Linked DNA regions of Homo sapiens: region 1 is linked to region 2. Evidence: fine-mapped expression QTL. A gene starts in region 2. The other region holds a variant in brackets. All regions are shown on one strand. Distances are between the middles of the regions. Region 1 has its middle 20 kb from the start of S100A16. Region 2 holds the start of S100A13 (S100 calcium binding protein A13).

Region 1 (4,389 bases), 34 kb before region 2:
TTGAAAAATTTCAGAGACTCACTATTATCAGATTAAGGCCAGATGTGTTGGCTCACACCTATAATCCCAGCACTTTGGGAAGCTGAAGCAGGAGGATCGCTTGAGCCCAGGAATTCGAGGCTGCAGTGAGTTATGATTGTGCCATTGCACTCCAGCCTGGGCAACAGAGCAAAACGCTGTCTCAAAAAAAAAAAAAAAAAAAAAAAAAAGGGCCACCTGTAATCCCACCACTTTGGGAGCCCAAGGAGGGCAAATCACAAGGTCAGGAGATCAAGACCATCCTGGCTAACACGGTGAAACCCTGTCTCTACTAAAATTAGCCGGGTGTGGTGGCAGGCGCCTGTAGTCCCACCTACTCAGGAGGCTGAGGCAGGAGAATGGCATAAACCTGGGAGGTGGAGCTTGCAGTGAGCTGCCATCACGCCACTGCATTCCAGCCTAGGCGACAGAGCGAGACTCCATCTCAAAAAAAAAAAAAAAAGTTTGCAATATTATACAGATTATGTTTTTCTGACTGCAATGCAACAAAATTTTTAAATTAATAGATAATAACGGCCAAGTGCGGTGGCTCACGCCTGTAATCTCAGCACTTTGATAGGCCGAGGCTGGCAGATCACCTGAGGTCAGAAGTTCAAGACCAGCCTGGCCAACATGGTGAAACCCTGTCTCTACTAAATATACAAAAAATTAGCTGGGCATGGTGGTGAGCGCCAGTAATCCCAGCTACTCAGGAGGCTGAGGCAAGAGAATCGCTTGAACCTGGGAGGCAGAGGTAGCAGTGAGCCAAGATCGAGCCATTGCACTCCAGCCTGGGCAACAGGGCAAGAGTCCGTCTCAAACAAACAAAAATAGATAATAAAATAGTTTTAAAATAAATCACCCAAAAAACTGAAAACAGCCCAATGTCCATCAATAGGACTATAGATAAATAGGGTATTTTCATACAATGAAATATGATAGAGTAGTAAAAATGAATGAACTCCATCAATATAAATCTTAAAATAAATCTCTTATTTTATCTGGGCACGGTGGCTGACACCTGTAATCCCAGCACTTTGGGAGGCCAAGGTGGGTGGATCACCTGAGGTCAGGAGTTCAAGACCAGCCTAACCAACATGGAGAAACCCCGTCTCTACTAAAAATACAAAATTAGCTGGGCGTGGTGGTGCAGGCCTGTAATCCCAGCTACTCAGGAGGCTTAGGCAGGAGAATCGCTTGAACCTAGGAGGCAGAGGTTGCAGTGAGCCCAGATTGAGCCATTGCGCTCCAGCCTAGGCAACGAGAGTGAAACTCCATCTCAAATAAATAAATAAATAAGTAAAATCTTATTTTAAACAAGAGAGGAAGTTGCAGAAGAATTTATATGCTATGATACCATTTATGTAAAGTGCAAAAACATGCAATACTAAATAAAATATTGTTTAAAAATTAGCTGGGCGTGGTGGCGGGCGCCTGTAATCCCAGCTACTTGGGAGGCTAAGGCAGGAGAATCACTTCAACCTGGGAGGCAGAGGTTGCAGTGAGCCGAGATTGTGCCACTGCACTCCAGCCTGGGCAACACAACAAGACTCCATCTCAATAATAATAATAATAATAATATATTGTTTAGAAATTTGTACACATGTGATCAAAAAATTTTTCAATCAAGGGGATCATAAATACACAGTTCAGGATAGTGACTACAGCTGTGGAAAGTGCAAGTACAATACGGAAGTGTACACAGAGGCCTTTAACTGGATCTGTAAGTTTTAGTTATTTATTTAAAGCAATCTAACTCAAATATAGAAAAATGTCCAACTTCAACAAAGCTTATGATTAGATATTGTGTTATTTTCTGTACTTTTCTGTACCTTTGAAATACTTCATCATTAGAACAATAGGAAAAGAAAAAGAATCTTTAAAAAGGAAGAGCATCCATGAACAGAAAGCAAGCTGTGTATCAGGGAGGAGAGTCCAGTTCCCCTGAGATTTTCCCATGAAACACACAATGTCAGCAAACAGTAGAGAGAAGGTTACAGGGCTCAGAGAGAAAGGGTGACCCAAGAATTGTATTCCCTGCCAAGCTGCAACAGACTCGAGTTGAAAGAAACAACTCAGGGAATACATAAAACAAGGGCCCTTTGAAATTCAACCAACCAAATAATAAATCACATTAAGGATGCAGGAATTAAGAAACCAAGCTAAACGCTCTGTCTGTGAGCATCGCATTCAGAGAACTGAAGCTAAACTTACATGGAAATCACGGTTACAAGACAGAATGTAAATACTGTATACATAATATAACTATCAGATAGTGCTACTCTGGGGTAC[A/G]GGAAATGGAAGTGTAAATGTATTATTTTCCTCATCCCCCTGGAAGAATTCGTAAGTCACCGTCTAAAATGAAAACGTGTAGTAAGGGCCGGGCAAAGTGGCTCATGCTTGTAATCCCAGCACTTTGGGAGGCCGAGGTGAGCAGATCACCTGAGCTCAGGAGTTTGAGACCAGCCTGGCCAACATGGTGAAATCCTGTCTCTACTAAAAGTATTTTAAAAAAAATTAGCTGGGCATGTATTAGCTGGGCATGTATTAGCAGACACGTGTAATCCCAGCTACTCAGGAGGCTGAGGCAAGAGGATTGCTTGAACCCGGGAGGCAGAGGTTGCAGTGAGCCGAGATCGGGCCACTGCACTCCAGCCTGAGCGACAGACTCCATCTCAAGAGAAAAAAAAAATTACCTGAAGTTCAATATTTTGTTCATTTTCCCTTTGGCTAACTACAAGTAAAATAATTTAAATTGTACTTTTTTGATAAATAACATTTATTATGATCTACTTTCATAACTTTTTTTTTTCCAGGATGGAGTCTTGCTCTGTCACCCAGGCTGGAGTGCAGTGGCATGATCTCGGCTCACTGCAACCTCCGCCTCCCAGGTTCAAGCAATTCTCCTGCCTCAGCCTCCAGAGTAGCTGGAATTACAGGCATGCCCACCACACCCAGCTAATTTTTGTTTTAGTAGAGACGGGATTTCACCATGTTGGCGAAGCTGGTCTTGAACTCCTGACCTCAAGTGATCCATCCACCTCGGCCTCCCAAAGTGCTGGGATTACAGTCGTAAGCCACTGCACCCAGCCTGAAGCACATTTTTAAAGAATGATTCTGGCTGCTATATGAGTATATAAGGTGAGTATGTTCCTATAAAGGAACAAGGGGAGATGCTTGGAATGTCTAAGTAAGAGACAACCATGATTCTGATCAATATGGTAGCAGTAGAAGTGGAAAGAGGGATTAATTCTGGATATGTTTTGAAGATGGAACTAGCAGGATTTCAAAACAGACAAGATGTGGGATGCGAAATATAGAAAGGAAGAATGAATGGCTCCATGCTGACAACAGAGCTGCCAGCGAACCAGAGCACGAAGAGCAGGTTGAGGACAAAAGGGGCATATGGAGTCTGCATTTGGACGTGCCTTTTGGACAGACCCTCTTCTCACTCCATGCTTGCCATGGGCAAGCTCATCCGTGCCCAGTACTTAGGTTACCATCTAAATGTTTCTGACTCCCAAATTGCCAATCCAGCCCTCCCCCATGAACTCTAGATGTGGATATCCAACTATCCTTTTTTTTTTTTTTTGAGATGGAGTCTCACTCTGTCATCCAGGCTGGAGTGCAGTGGCGTGATCTCAGCTCACTGCAACCTCTGCCTCCTGGGTTCAAGCAATTTTCCCACCCCAACCTCCCGAGTAGCTGGGATTACTGGTGCATGCTTAGTAGAGATGTGGTTTCACCATGTTGCCAAGGCTGGTTTCAAACTCCTGGCCTCAAGTGATCCACCTGCCTCAGCCTCTCAAATTGCTGGGATTACAGGCATGAGCCACCGCACCTGCCGTGCACCCCCCAACTACCATTTTGTCATCACCACATCACTATCCCAAAGGGATGTCTGAAACTAAACTTGCAGTGTCCACATGTCCTCCTTCCCCACTCACTCTGAAAAAGGGTTCTGGGCCTTTCCCAGCATTGCCTGTATCAATGAATGGCACTACCATTCTGGCTGCACAAGCCAGATATATGGAAGTTGCCTGGACACCTTCCTCTCTCTGGTCCATCAGATTCAGTTCATAAGCAAGGCCTGACTTTTTTACCCCTTACATTTCTCCCAAATCCATCCCATTGTTACATCTCTCCACCAGCCCCATTCCTCAGGACTCACTGTCCTCTTTCTTGCTTTGTTTTTCTCCATATGCCATATGATTTTCTTGTCTGCTTACTGATTGTATATCTCCACCCGAGTGGACTGAGTTCTGTGACGGCAGAGACAGAACAGTGCCTGAGGCTGGGAGTGGTGGCCCATGCCTGTAGTCCCAGCACTTTGGGAGACCGAGATGGGCAGATCACTTGAGCCCAGGAGTT
Region 2 (4,389 bases):
GCCAGGCGCGGTGGCTCACGCCTGTAATTCCAGCACTTTGAGAGGCCGAGGCAGGTGGATCACCTGAGATCAGGAGTTCGAAACCAGCCTGGCCAACATAGTGAAACCCCGTCTCTACTAAAAATACAAAAATTATCCAGGCATGGTGGCGGTTGCCTGTAATCCCAGCTACTCATGAGGCTGAGGTAAGAGAACCACTTGAACCCAGGAGGCAGAGGTTGCAGTGAGCCAAGATCGCACCATTGCACTCCAGCCTCGGTGACAGAGTGAGACTCTGTCACAAAAAAAGAAAAAATTAGCCAGGCAGTGTGGCATGCGCCTGTGGTCCCAGCTACTTGTGAGGCTGGGGCAGGAGGATTGCCTGAGCCCGGAAGGTCAAGGATGCAATGAGCTGTGATCGCACAGTGGCCTGGGCAACAGAGTGAGAAACCCTGTCTCAAAAAAAAGTCTGAGAAGTTGGAAGTTGTAGGGGATTTTGCAGATGAAAGACCATGAGTTTCAGAGACTCACTGTGTTCAAGGAGTCCATATTCACACACTTCAACGTGCCTGTGGATTTTCAGAAAGGATGTAAAACAAACTGTCAACAGCCAGAATGACCAGGCCTCTTCGAGGCCAGAGTCGATGAAATTTAAGACCTGACTCCAGCCTGTGAGTGCGAGAGAAGGAATGACTCTTACACCCTAGTAAGGGGATGCCCATAGCGGGTAGGGAGTCTTCACAGATGCACCCACAGACCCCCTACACTGAGGTCTATGACTCCATGAATTTGGCTGTGTTTTCATTTTTGATAAGCCCCTTTCCACTGCTAGGCCTCAGTTTCCATATATGTGAAGTGAGGAATGCGGACTGTGTTTTCTCTTGGCCTCCTTCCAGCTCTGACAGTCTGTGAATCTCCTGGAAGCCAGCTCTGGGTCCAGTCCTGTCTTGGGGAAATTAGACCAGAAAGGCACAGAGCATACACAAGAACCCAACAGCATCTTCTGACACAAGACCATACTCCCACTGGCACATAGTATCTTTGCTTACCTAATTATATGCATGGACACACAAACACACACATGTACACACCAGGCAAGAAAACTCACAACCGGGTCAGGCGCAGTGGCTTGCGCCTGTAACCACAGCACTTTGGGAGGCCGAGGCGGGTGGATCACCTGAGGTCAGGAGTTCGAGACCAGCCTGGCCAACCTGGTGAAACCCTGTCTCTACTAAAAATACAGAAATAGGCTCGGCGTGGTGGCACACACCTGTAATCCCAGCTACTCAGGAGGCTGAGGCAGGAGAATCACTTGAACCCCGGAGATGGAGGTTGCAGTGAGCCAAGATCACACCACTGCACTCCGGCCTGGGCAACAGAGTGAGACTTTGTCTCGAAAAAACAAAAGAAAACCTGCAACCATTGACACATGCAGCCACCCACACCCTTTCTTGTGGTCACCTCACCGTACTCGGCACCATCACGTCCTAAACACAGTGTCCCATAATCATCATCTCACAAAATCTCAGTCCCAGACTTCTGCCTACCTTGAGCAGATGGGGCAACTGCTGGGTAACCAGCTCTTTGAACTCGTTGACGCTGAGGCTATCCTTCCGGCCCTCCTGCCTTGCAAAGGTGAAGAAGGTGGTGACCACGGTCTCAATGGACTCCTCTAGCTCTGTCAGTGGTTCTGCTGCCATTAGGACCCTGAGGCCAAAGCTGATGTCCTCAAGGGGCTAGCTGACCTTTGTCAGGGCTGACCTGTGGAAGAGAGAAGGAGCAGAGAGGGAGAGTCAGGGAGCCCCAAGATGCAGGAATGGTTCAGAAGGTCCCTGCCTTGGTGTTATCACATCAGTCTCAGCCTGGAGGGGGCATATGGGGAAAGAGGGAGAGGACAGGGGTTGAGCTTGGGGCAGCAGACCAGGCAACGGCATCTCAGTTTTGGTGGGGGCAGGAGATTCAGCTCCAGAAACCCCCTCTTCTGTAGGTCTCACAATCCGGGATCCTTTTTAAATGTCTGTGGCTTAGGGACCCCTCTGTGGTGATCCCTCGATCTGGAGACCCCTCTACTTGAGAGGAGGTCTTCAGTTGAAGGTCCTTCTTGGAGTCCTTCAAGTCTGGTGGCCCCTCTGTGGCGTGTCTGTCTCAAGAATCCCTTCTTGTCTCACCCAGACTCACAGGTCATAAGGTTGTTTGTCTCCAAAGCTTGTTTATGTTGGGCCCTGGTCTCCGGCCACTCGCATCCGCCCACACACACTCTAACCGCTCCTCCCAGCAGAGAAGCACAGGGTCTGGCAAATGTCCCCTGTGGTCAGAGCTGGCTCCGTCTGAACAGACCCATTTTCTCTGCCCCGCTCCACCCTTACCTCTCCTCAGCGGCAGCAGGGCAGAGTGCTGAACCCAGGACCCCACAGATCCTCCCCGCTCCTGTCTCCCGGTGACAAGGGTCCTGGAACGGGGCGTCTCTGACTCCCTGCTCCAGGACGGGTTTAGTACAGGCACTCACAACCCCCTGGGGTGCGGCGGGTGGGGCTGGAAGAGGCATTCTCTTTTCTGTCCACCCCGTCACACACTCCTGCACGCGCTGTTGCTCGATCATCCAAAGCTCCTTCCTGAATTCCTGTCTGAGCTGGCTCTGGGGGAGGGACCTGGGAGCCCAGGAAGAAAAAATGATCTCCAGCCTCCCTCCAGGGTCAGCCATGAGACTCACCCGGCAAGGAGATGGGGTAGAGTGAGCTGGAGCCTCAGGGCTGAGGTTTATAAGCAGCGGGGAAGGAGGAGAGAGCTGCTTCCAAGCCCGGAGGTGTCAAATTTCCGTGGTCGATTCTGAAGACCAGAGACAGCCCAATCAGGCCGCTTGCCCTGAGCCCTCAGGTCTGGACCCGGGCTCCCTGCCAGCCACACGAGCGCCCCCACTTGGTCAGGGAGAGGAGCTGCCTGGACAGATCTCGTTCGGCAGGGGTCCCAGGGTCCTAGTCCTCTCAATACTGGGGGCTGCTGCCACCATACCCATGTCTAATCAGGAGTGTGTATGCTGAGGGGGGAAGAGGGAGGCAACCAATCAAGGGAGCTCAACACTGAGAGGCCCAATCTGAGACACACACAGAGGCCCCTTGGAATGAGATCCCACAAAGGATGCTACAGACCAAGATCCCTCAGAGAACCCCAGGCTGAGGCCCCACACACAGAGGGGGATCCAGGTTGAGACCCCCAGAGAAGAGTCCTGGATTGAAATCCCTCTGTGGGTTCTCAGACTCCCAAGACTAAGTTTCTCACTGAGGGTCCTCTCAGTGAGGCCCCATGGAGGAGCCACAGACTAAGACCCCCTCAGCAGAATTCCCCCCTTACCGGGCTCAACCAGCACAGCCAGCCACAGGTACTGCAAGGCCCAGCTTGGGGTAAGACATCCAGTGTCCCTCCCAGGACCTCCTTCCCACCTCTTTCCCCTGCACCATCCACTGCTGCCTGGAGAGAAAGGAACGGGGCAAGCAAGGCTGGGAAAGAGACAAGGGCCGCCTGTTCCAGCCCAGGAGACAGAGGGCGCCTCTGTCTGCTCCTGGCCCCTTGCCCCACAGGGTGTTCGTCTGTGAAGGGGTGGAGTCGGTGGGGGGGTCAGCGGGGGAGGGACTGTTGAAGACAGGTCTCCACACACAGCTCCAGCAGCCACATTTGCAACCTTGGCCATCTGTCCAGAACCTGCTCCCACCTCAGGCCCAGGCCAACCGTGAGTACCCTGCCCCACTGGGCTAGTCCCTGGCCTGCCAGCTTCAGGGAGAGGGGTCTTCAGAAGGGCTCCAAGAGGCTGGGGACCATAGCACTGTGGAGCACTGAGGATCTGGGAGGAGTCAGTCAGGGTGAGGGCAGTTTGGGATTTGGGGGAGACAGGGTTTGGAAGGTGGTGATGAGAGACAAATGAACTGAAGGTCGGAGAGAGAGCTGGCAGCTCAGCAAAGGAGGAAGCCAGTGGGGAACCCACCATGAGCTTCCTGACCGCCTGGCCCTCCCACAGGGAGCCCTCAAGTCCCTGCCAAGGCCCCCTCTGTCTCCCAGGTGTTGGGAAGGGTCCCAGCCCTCCCCTGCCTCGCCTCCTGTGGGGTAAGAAGAGAGCAGATACAACAGCTGTTTCTGCCCCCACCTCTCCTGCCAGCCTTAGTCTCTGCCACCCCCACCCTGCCTTGCCAAGAGCTCAGGTCCCGGGGGAGTCTGGGGGTGGCAGGGCAAAGCTCCCATGATATGGGGAAGCAGAGATGTAGGGTGCTGTGCCCCTTCCCAACTCGACCTCCACAGGACCTCCCCTTTCTCCTCCTCCCATTTTTGGCCCAGACCTCTTGACTCCTCTTTCCCCCCATTCTTACCTCTTTGTTTCCCCATCTCCCCTGCCCCCAAGTCCTCTCAGAACTGCCACCACGT

The links. PIP is the estimated chance that this variant, and not a neighbour inherited with it, causes the effect.
Region 1: its variant is the best candidate, but not a certain one, in a credible set for the expression of S100A13 in adrenal gland (GTEx, PIP 0.59).

What each region holds. Positions count from the first base shown.
Region 1 is chr1:153,590,850-153,595,238 of GRCh38, forward strand. No RefSeq gene overlaps it. Among named protein-coding and RNA genes, the nearest start is that of S100A16, 20 kb to the right of the region's middle. The variant A/G (reference allele first, on the strand shown) is at 2,311.
Region 2 is chr1:153,624,794-153,629,182 of GRCh38, forward strand. It overlaps S100A13 (S100 calcium binding protein A13), which reads right to left and starts at 2,712. Exons shown (of 3, transcript NM_001024211.2): 1 at 2,690-2,712; 2 at 1,527-1,740. The coding sequence starts at 1,679. It overlaps S100A1 (S100 calcium binding protein A1), which reads left to right and starts at 3,641. Exons shown (of 3, transcript NM_006271.2): 1 at 3,641-3,703. RefSeq lists enhancers at 2,134-2,959, 3,786-4,389.